2 linked regions of the Homo sapiens genome follow. The protein of the gene in region 1 purifies or fractionates together with the protein of each later gene. This does not show direct contact. Each region holds a gene or a part of one and is shown on either strand. Other genes may lie near its edges.

Region 1 (5,259 bases):
CCAAAATATCACTTCAAAATGGATTTATCATTATAGTTGATAGAAAGATTTCCAGGGTGTAAGAAAACAATTCAACAGTTTGATTAATATGCCACAGACTGCTAAAAATATATTCATGCATTTTAGACAATAAATTTCAGGATATAGACATACACTCATGCTATTTGAGATCCTTTTTTCCTACCATTGCAAGAGGCTGCTTTAGCTAATGCAACAGCTGGCTAGGTTATTGCTTCAACAATATAATTCATAATGCAAAAGCAGCTCTTTTCCAAACATTTTAGAGCAACTCAAGTTGTTTACATCTCCTGTAGGTGATTTTCCTATAACTTTGTGCCAATTGGTGTCATACTATTTGGTAAAAATCTACATTAAATCAAGACAACTGCACTTGGTTAAATTTCTGTCATACAGAGAATTATAGAAAAATTACAGCTGATTTGAACTTATCATCATTAAGTATATACAGGGTTTTAGAAAATGAATGCAAACTACAAAAATGGAGTTGTATAATTAAACATTAAATAGTCCAAGTAATAAAAGTCATAGATTAATTGTCTCTCAGTTCTAGTCAGATCCTTTAAATACTGTCTCACGACTTGAGCATTGGTTCTTTCATCGGAAGAGTGCCTATCCTTAAAGTTGGGAAATTTCAGCTCCTTTGGAGCACCGATCATCTGTAAAAAGTAATTGGCATCTTCTTCCAAAGTCTCAAATTTCCCTACAAAATCATAGTTGATCAAACACGGATAGCAGAGTTTGCTGACCTTTTCCCAGTGAATGTCCATTCCTACTGGACGGTGGGAATCCAGCAAGTAGTGGATAAACTCTTTGAACTTGACTCCAGATCCATTAATTAATGCTTCTTCACAGGCATTTGGTCGATATTTCTTGATAATTGCCTTTCCGAATACTGGATGGTAATAACTATTGGGGTGTTCAAATTTGTCCCTAAAGGCTGATACTAATCTTTCCATGGGATCACGAACAAACACAGCTTTGGTGTAAGTATTTAAGCGGGTATATATCCCTTTTAGGTCAAAGCTATCTAGCTTCTTCAAATGCTTCCCGTAGTGGACAGCATTGTGGGAGATGTTGTATGCAGAGGAAGCCAATCCATTTAGTACCATCAGAATTCTTTTCCAATTGGAACAGCCAGCCTTAGGTACCTCACAATATAAGATTTTGTGTTTATCTTCTACATAGATTCTGGATACTGTATGAAAAAGATGTGACTGATGATGACTCACCCCACCGTATTTCTTGCAAAACTCCTGAAGGAAAGACCTTCGTTTCTCTTGGGTCTCCTCAGTTTTCTTCCATTTATTATCTTTGACTAAACTTTTGTTTAAAGGGTGAATGTCCACTGGCCAATTCATGTTGCTGAACTTGTTAAAAACAGTCTTAGCTCCTTGACGTTTTTCAATCAACTTCTCTGTTGGTGACCCTGTGGACTTACTTAAAGCTTGATCCCCTCCTTGTGAATGACTGGTCTTTGTTAAGAGCCTAGTAGATCTCTCAGAATTGAGTAGAAGATTTTCCTTTTTTTCTCGTACATCCTCAGGCATGTGAAACTTGGGGTTCTGTTAAAATAAAGAAGGAGAAATGTTGAAAGCACAGTCACGAGTGTGGGTATACTGGATAAGGAACTTCACATATTTGTTTTAAAATAGTATCAAGGAGAGCATATTTCATATAAGCTGCCAGAACAATTTAGCAAGGCATGCTGAACATACATTTTGTAGTGAGCTTCTTCACAGAAAATGTAGCAATGAGAAATGGCATCTACAGGATAGGGAGGAAAGAGCCCTGGATTTTTGTCCTGGCTTTGCCTGTAATGCAATAGGATGTAACTCAACCATTCTGAGCATCTATGACTTTTGGGATATTAATAAGTATGTCATCTTCAAGTACTGTTTTAGTTTGTGCACCTGAATGTAGATACAAAATGGAGATGTTTTGAGATTGAAACTTTTATTGTTTTTAGGGAGCACTCTGTAATGCACAGAATAGTTCAAAATCATAAATTACAACTTAAAATTTTGGCAAGGCTAATTATAAATCTCGATGACCACTTCAGTTTTCTAAGTGCTTGCAAAAATCATGTATTTTTTTTTTCCTGGGAAAATGTTTTATTTTTCTAAAGCATTTATCACAATAATTTAAGAATTTATTATGATCATAGTATACAATCTCATTCACATATGAGACCTTCCCTCTTTCCCAAGTGAAGAATGACTAAGGAATCCAGAAAAGTCTACTTGACGTCCTGCTCTATAAAACTGTATCAAGGTAGAGCAAAAATGTAGTTATCTTTTCAGTAGGATGAATGAGTCCATTTACCACATACTGTTCATCTTGCCACATCCTTCCTACAACTCTCACAGTAAAAGAAGACATGGAAGACGGGATTTACAAGGTGGCATCCTCTGGTAGGGATGAAAATTTTAAGGACCTTGGCTTTTACTCTGGGTAAACTAGGGAACTTTTGTAGGGCTCTGGGTAGAAAAGTAACATGATCTCACTTAGACTTGAAAAGGATGGTGTGGAGAGGAATGGACTGGATATATACATATAGGGTTGTCAGCATGTTATTGGAAAAGTAAATGAATAAATTCTGTGCTGTGGACATAATGCATGGTGTCATCAGCCTAGAGGTGGAGGGAGTGGTGGGGAAAGTTTCCTAGGGAATATAAACATGATTGCAAATATATATATACATGATACACATGATTGCATATATATATATATAGTACATATATATGTGTGTGTGTGTATACACAATTTTTAACCATTGTATCCCCAATAGTGTCTAGAATGGTCTACAGCCTATAATAATTTCTCTCAAATATTTGTGGAATGAACAAGTGAATGAATGAATGGAATTAGGTCTTCAAGGATAATTAGTAATTTTCTAGCAAATTAAGCAATAGAACAGAGGAATGAAGCACCGTTCATGGAGCCACCTCCAGACATCATGGTCATTCCACCAGCTGAGGTTGAAGGGCACTGCTTTTTTTTCTAGTGCAAGAGGACTGTGTGAATAACCCCCTGAATACCATATGCCAACGTGTACAGCCCCGTGTATAGCCCCGTGTATTAGTCTGTTCTCATGCTGCTAATAAAGACACACCCGAGACTGGGTAATTTATAAAGAAAAAGATGTTTAATGAACTCACAGTTCCACATGGCTGGGGAGGCCTCACAATCATGGCAGAAGGTAAAGGAAGAGCAAAGGCCTGTCTTATATGGTGGCAGGCAAGAGGGAGAGTGTGCAGGGGAACTGCCCTTTATAAAACCATCAAATCTTGTGAGACTTATTCACTATCACGAGGACAGCATGGGAAAAACCCACCCCCATGATTCAATTACCTCCCACCTGGTCCCTCCCATGACACGTGGGGATTATAGGAGCTACAATTCAAGATGAGATTTGGGTTGGGACACAGCCAAACCATATCACCCCCTGAAACGGCCACTCCAAATCTTCCATACCATTGGACCGTCTATTTGGAGTTTTAACTCTAAAACCATTTGTCTGCTGTCTTCTCCAGAGACTGCCAGGATTACTTCAAAGCCCTTTGTGCTTCTTTACTCTGATCAGTGATTTGTAGTACATAAAGTTGTCACTGAAAATATAAAATTTGACTGTGGTTTGACAGACCATAGGGTTATGGGTGCACATGCATGGAAAGTACTTAGCACAGGCCAAATATAAAACTGCCATGATATTTATACTATTACACTGCTATAAATAATAACTACTATTATTGTTGTTTTAGCAGCAGCAGCAGTAGTAGTAGTTATAGTACTTTAATCCCAGGGACCTGGTGAATTTAAAGCCTCCCCATTTGTCCATTATTATTCAGACTATAATTTGTGTGTCCCTACATATGCCCTCACCAGGTCTCTTCTCTGCTTGACAATCAGAAATAAAAACAAAATCCACCTTCCCCTGTGGCCTCTGGACTTTCTGCTTTGTGGCCATCAAATTCCCCTTTAATCTCCAGGGGTTTCTGGAATGTTTGTTTCCAAGACTCTCTGTAAATGAAACTTGGCTGACTCCCAACACTCTGTGTCTCTTGCACTTTCTCAAGTAGGTGAAACTTGACTTCCTTGAACTACTTGTCTCTCCAGCCAGAAGATAGGGAGTGATTTCCCTGCAGCCCACGGCTGCTTCCAGGACATCACCCAGCAAAGCCCTCTGCTTCTGTGAAATCAATGTGTTCTCCTTAAGTCTCCCTTTCCCCCTCCTCTTGTTGTCATCTACCTTTATCACTGATCTGTCCACTTTACACACTCCAGCTTCTAACTCAGCTCCTGTCATTACATTTAGTGACTCTGACATCCAATCAACTCTCAGTTCCTTGACCACTTTGTTTTTAACAGAGGAGCTCTCCACTTCACATCAAACTTGGTTATCACCAGAGCCTTTACTATTCCCACCATCTTTCTGACCACTCTTGTCTCACCTTCCAGTTCAGTGTTATTTCCTGGTTTGCAATTCTTTGACCACTTTTCACTGTTACCCAGGTCTTAACAGCCAGCATGACTGGCTCTTCATTCTTCAGCTCTCAGTTGGAAAGTCACCTCTGTAGAAAGGCTTTCCCTATTCACCCTGTCTAGGTTATTTCCCTCCCTTTCAAAATATTTCCTGCAGAACCCTGCTTATTTTTCTCATAGCACTAATCACACTGAGAAATGATTTTATTTATTTCCTTCTCTGTTGTCTTTTTCACCCCACTCTACCTCCATTGCACTAGAATATAACTGCAGAGAGGTCTTATCTTTCTTGCTCTCTGTGGTACTAAGCACACTGCCTGGCGCATAGAAGATGTTAAGGAAATAATTCTTGAATAAGTAAATGTGCTTCTAATTTAATAGTGGTCTTCTAAACAACTGTTTTATGACCTTGTTGAAGAAAAACAACATTGACCAAAAGGTCAAGTTAAACTTGAATAAACAATTGACCAATTCTTGTTAAGGTGATGAGAATCTGTGTTTAAATAAACCTTTGGCAAAAGAGAAAACAAATAAAATAAGCACATGGGAATCTGCTTGCAGTAAAGTAGATGTGGAGGCTTCGTGTTTAACCTGCCTGCCAAATCAGATCAGTTCAAAGTCACTCAACGCTGTCTCCAAACCTGTCGAGGGCTTGCCAGCAATCCGGATTTCCAGGCCTTACTGCAGACATCCTGAATCAGAATGTCTGAGTGTAAGGCCCCTGACTTTAATTTCAACAAGATCCCCAGGTACTCC
Region 2 (5,259 bases), on another chromosome or scaffold:
GCCGAGATTGCACTGCAGCCTTGGTAACAAGAGTGAGATTTCATCTTATAAAAAAAAAAAAAATATATATATATATATATATACACACACACACACATATATTATTAAAAATATATATCTTATTAAAATATATATACATATATATGATCTATAATAGCATTAAAAATATAAAATATGTGGGGATATATTTGGCAAAAGACATGTCAGAACTGCACACTGAAAACTACAAAATATTGCTGACAGAGATGAAAGGAAACCTAAATAAATGGAGAGACATACCATGTTCATGGATTGGAGGACTCAATATTGAGATCTTAGTTCTCATCAAATTGATCTGCAAATGTTACCCAAACACAACCATCAAAAGCCAAGCAGGCTTCTCTAAAGGAAAGGACAAGCTGATAAAATTCACATGAAAATGTAAAGTATCTAGACCAGCTGAAAAAACTTTGAACAAGAACAAACGCGAAGGGCTAAGTTCATGACTTGTTGAAAAACTACGGGAACCAGACAGCGTGGCAGCATCAAGACGGACATACACATCAAGGAAACAGGACGGCCAGCCCAAAGGTAGACGCCACAGACCCTCACACACATGCAGTCCATGAATTTTTGACAGGTGCTGAGGTGATTCAACATGAGGAGGATCATCTTTTCACCTAATAGTTCTGAACAACTGGACAGCCACGTCTAAAAGAACGAAGCCCAACCACTTCCTCATACTACATACAAATATTAACTCAGAATGGATTATAGACCTAAATGTGAGGACTAAAACTATGAAACTTTTTAGAAGAAAGCACTGGAAATTTTTTTTTTTTTGTCTTTTTGTGAGACAGGATCTCCCACTGTTGCCCAGGCTGGAGTACAGTGGTGTGATCTCAGCTCACTGCAGCCTCAACCTTCCAGGCTCAAGCAATCCTCCCACTTCAGCCTCCCAAGTAGCTGGGATTACAGGCATGCACCACCACACCTGGAAATTTTTTTTTTTTTTTGGTGGAGATGGGGTCTCCCTATGTTGCACAGGCTGGTTTCAAACTCCTGGTCTCAAGTGATCCTCCCACCTTGGCCTTCCAAAGTGTTGGGATTACAGGCGTGAGCCACCTCACCCAGCTGGAAAAAGTCTTAGTGGTGTTTAAAATCTTTTATACTTAATGGAACCCTGAATTTTTTTTTTTTTTCCTGTTTTAGGCAGGGTCTTACTCTGTCCCCAGGCTGGAGTACAGTGATGTAATCATGGTTCACTGTAGCCTCTACCTACTGTGCTCAGACAATCTTCCCACCTCAGCCTCCTGAGTACCAGGGACTACAAGCATGCACCACCATGCCTGACTAATTTTTGTATTTTTTTGTAGAGATGAGGTTTTGCCATGTTGCCCAGGCTGACCTCGAACTCCTGGGCTCAAGCAATCTCTCTGCCTCAGCATCATAATGTGCTTGGATTACAGGCATGAGCCACTGTGCCTAGCCAAAACACTGTTAAGAAAATTAAAATACAGTTGGGTGTGGTGGCTTGTGCCTGTAATCCCAGCACTTTGGGAGGCCGAGGCGGGAGGATCGCTTGAGTCCAGGAGTTCAAGACCAGTTCTGTGTCTTGCTAGTGGTTATATAATTAATTTAAGAGGTAACACTGCATAGAGCCATACACACATGTAAAACTGGTGAAACCTGAATAAGGTCTATAGTTTAGTTAGCAGTATTTCAATTCCCTGGTTTTGATATTGTACTATGGAGGTGTATGGAGGTGTAAGATGTTAACACAAGGGCCGGGCATGGTGGCTCATGCCTGTAATCCCAGCACTTTCGGAGGCCAAGGCGGGCGGATCACCTGAGGTCAGGAGTTTGAGACCAGCCTGACCAACATGCAGAAACCGCGTTTCTACTAAAAATACAAAAAATCAGCCCGGCGTGGTGGCGCATGCCTGTAATCCCAGCCACTCGGGAGGCTGAGGCAGGAGAATCACTTGAACCTGGGAGGGGGAGGTTGCGGTGAGCTGAGATCACGCCATTGCACTCCAGCCTGGGCAACAAGAGCCAAACTCCATCTCAAAAAAAAAAAAAAAAAGATGTTAACACAGAGGGAGCTGGTGAAGGGCACAGGGGTCTCTCTGTACTATTTTTACAACTTCCTATGAATTAGTCTATGATTATTTTTTTTTTCCCCAGACGAAGTCTCGCTCTTGTCCCCCATGTTGGAGTGCAATGGCGCAATCTTGGCTCACTGCAACATCTGCCTCCAGGGTTCAAGCAATTCTCCTGCCTCAGCCTCCTGAGTAGCTGGGATTACAGGTGCCCGCCGCCACACCCGGCTAATTTTTGTATTTTAAGTAGAGATGGGGTTTCACCATGTTGACCAGGTTGGTCCTCAAACTCCTGACCTCAGGTGATCCGCCCGCCTCGGCCTCCCAAAGTGCTGGGATTACAGGTGTGAGCCACCGCACCCAGCCAATTATTTCAAAATAAACAGTTAATAAAGGTCAGACACAGTGGCTCACACTTGTAATCCCAGCACTTTGGGAGGCCGAAGCAGGGGAATCACCTGAAGCCAGGAATTGGAGACCAGCCTGGGCAACACAGCAAGACCCCGTCTCTACAAAAACATTAATAAAAAATAAACAAATCAAAATCACAAAATGTTAAAAAAAATGTATTATTACTGCTACATTACCTAGAAGCTCTATTTTGTGTGTGTGTGTGTGTGTGTGTGTGTGTGTGTGTGTGTGTGTGTGTGTGTGTGAGAGAGAGAGAGAAATAGAGATATTGAGAGACTGAGAGGTAGGGTCTTGCTCTGTCACCTAAGCTGGAGTGCAGTGGTGCAATTACAGCTTACTGCAGCCTCAATCTCCCAGGCTTAAGGGATCCTCCCATGTAGCTGAGACTACAGGCATGAGCCACTATGTCCAGCTAATTTTTAAATTTTTTGTAGAGACAGGGTCTCGCTACCTTGAACGGGCTGACCTTGAACTCCTGGGCTCTGGTGGCCCTCCTGTGTTGACCTCCCAAAGCATTGGGATTACAGGCATGAGCCACTGCACCCAGCCTAGAAGCTCTGTTCATATTTATTTGCGAAGATCAATTTGATGACTAAGCAGTAAACTAATTTATAAAATAATATTAAATATTAAAACCAACTTTAAACAATTATCTTCACCTATGTATGTGTGTGTGTGTATATATATACACACACACACACACATATATATATATTTAACAAGTATCTCCAATACCACAACCAGTGTATTTTTTGTTTTTTTGAGATGGAGCTTCGCTGATGTTGTCCAGGCTGGAGTGCAGTGGCGCGATCTCGGCTCACCGCAAACTCTGCCTCCCAGGTTCAAGCAATTCTCCTGCCTCAGCTTCCCAAGTAGCTGGGACTACAGGTGTGCGCCACCACGCCCAGCTAATTTTGTATTTTTAGTGGAGACCTGCCTCTTAATTCTCCAACATGGAGGGGTTTCTCCATGTTGGTCAGGCTGGTCTCAAACTCTCAACCTCAGATGATCCGCCCGCCTTGGCCTCCCAAAGTGCTGGGATTGCAGGCGTCGCCACCGCGCACGGCCACCATTATGCCTCGGCCTCCCACAGTGCTGGGATTACGGGCGTGGCCACTGCGCGCGGCCACCATTGTGCCTCGGCCTCCCACAGTGCTGGGATTGCAGGCGTGGCCACCGTGCGCGGTCACCACTGTATTTTTTGACAAGGGTGAGTCAGGACTGACACTTAATTCATTTGTTTGATATATTAACTGCTTTAAAAGGACACACAATGCTAGCTGCACCAAAGTGCATTCAAATTCCTCATAGCATGAATCTAATTTTAAAAAACCTTTGTAGGGCGGGCATGGTGGCTCACGACTGTAATCCCAGCATTTTGGGAGGCCGAGGCGGGCAGATCACGACATCAGGAGTTCAACACCAGCCTGGCCAAGATGGTGAAACTCCGTCTCTACTAAAAATACAAAAAAAATTAGCTGGGCGCGGTGGCAGGCGCCTGTCATCCCAGCTACTCAGGAGGCCGAGGCAGGAGAATCGCTTGAACCCAGGCGGCAGAGGTTGCAGTGAGCTGAGATCACGCCACTGCCCTCCAGCCTGGGGGACAGAGTGAGACTCCGCCTCAAAGAAAAAAAAAAAATCCTCTGTATTAGGAAGTTTTATTAGAAAAAAATACTAGAGCACAATAAGAAAATATTCATAACGAACTTATACAAAGTAGCAAGGAAAACATTAAGATGCCAATAAATAAATGTGCAAAGAACATGAACAAAAGTCACACACACACAAATACAAACATAATACACGAGTTCGTTCCCATGTAAGAACTCAATCAATATTTGTTGCAAGACTAAATGAAAAAGGAAAATTTATTTAGTGACAGAAATGGGGAAACATTCAACCTCAACCCTGAGTGGGAAAAAACTTACTGCCCACTAAATTACCCATCTCATCTCACCCCGGTAAATAATGCCCAGTGCTGGCATGCACACTGGCAGTATACAAACTGAGAAAGACTTTCTGGAAAGTGCTACAGCCATGTGACCACAGGGCTTCACCCTGTGACCTCATTAAACCTAAGCAGATTACAGGTCTGAAGGGGGCTTTCTTTAGATGTGGCTCCACCTACTTAGGGGCAGATGAAGAAAACAGGGGTCTGGGCAGTTCTGAATGGGAAGGCCAGGCATCACCTCCCTCTTCAGTTGCACAAAGTGTGCGTGGCATCCTCACATCCCATCTGCCTCAATTTCGCTTTTTCTCTGAACACTTTTCACCATCTGTCTGAAGCACACACACACATTTTATTCACTTCCCCATTCCCATGCATGAATGCTAGGACCTTTGCAATTGTGGGCCAGGAAAGATTGCAAATGATAAGCCACCAGCACAGAGAGTAGAAATGAAATCCTGGGGTTACAAGCTAAAGCATTACTGACACCCACTTGTCCAGAACGGCTGAAGCTGGGCGGTGACTGTCAACAGGTATATACGGACTAGAAAGTGGAGCTGCTGGAGGAGGCCCTGTACCTTCCTGCCATGACACAGCCTCCCCCCAAGTGCTGGGCTTGTGTGCTCAACACTCCCTCTTGCTGTCATCCTACCACACCTGCAGACTGGAGGTAATCCAGATGCAAGGCCGTCGAGTCCCGCAAACACCCACCTGCCTCTTAATTTTCCAAGTGAGACCTACATTTCCTCAAGCGTGAAGCTCAATAAAATCAACTATTGTTTTCCGTTTTCATCACGAGCGCCACTTTCCCCCTATTTG

What was found.
Region 2: the proteins of CHST9 (region 1) and NADK purify together in Homo sapiens (co-immunoprecipitation; one large-scale study listed by IntAct). This does not show direct contact.

What each region holds. Positions count from the first base shown.
Region 1 is NC_000018.10:26,915,768-26,921,026, forward strand, and holds part of CHST9 (carbohydrate sulfotransferase 9), read right to left. Parts: intron 1,584-5,259; coding exon 492-1,583; 3' UTR 1-491. UniProt on the Homo sapiens protein: Catalyzes the transfer of sulfate to position 4 of non-reducing N-acetylgalactosamine (GalNAc) residues in both N-glycans and O-glycans.
Region 2 is NC_000001.11:1,770,994-1,776,252, forward strand, and holds part of NADK (NAD kinase), read right to left. Parts: intron 1-5,259.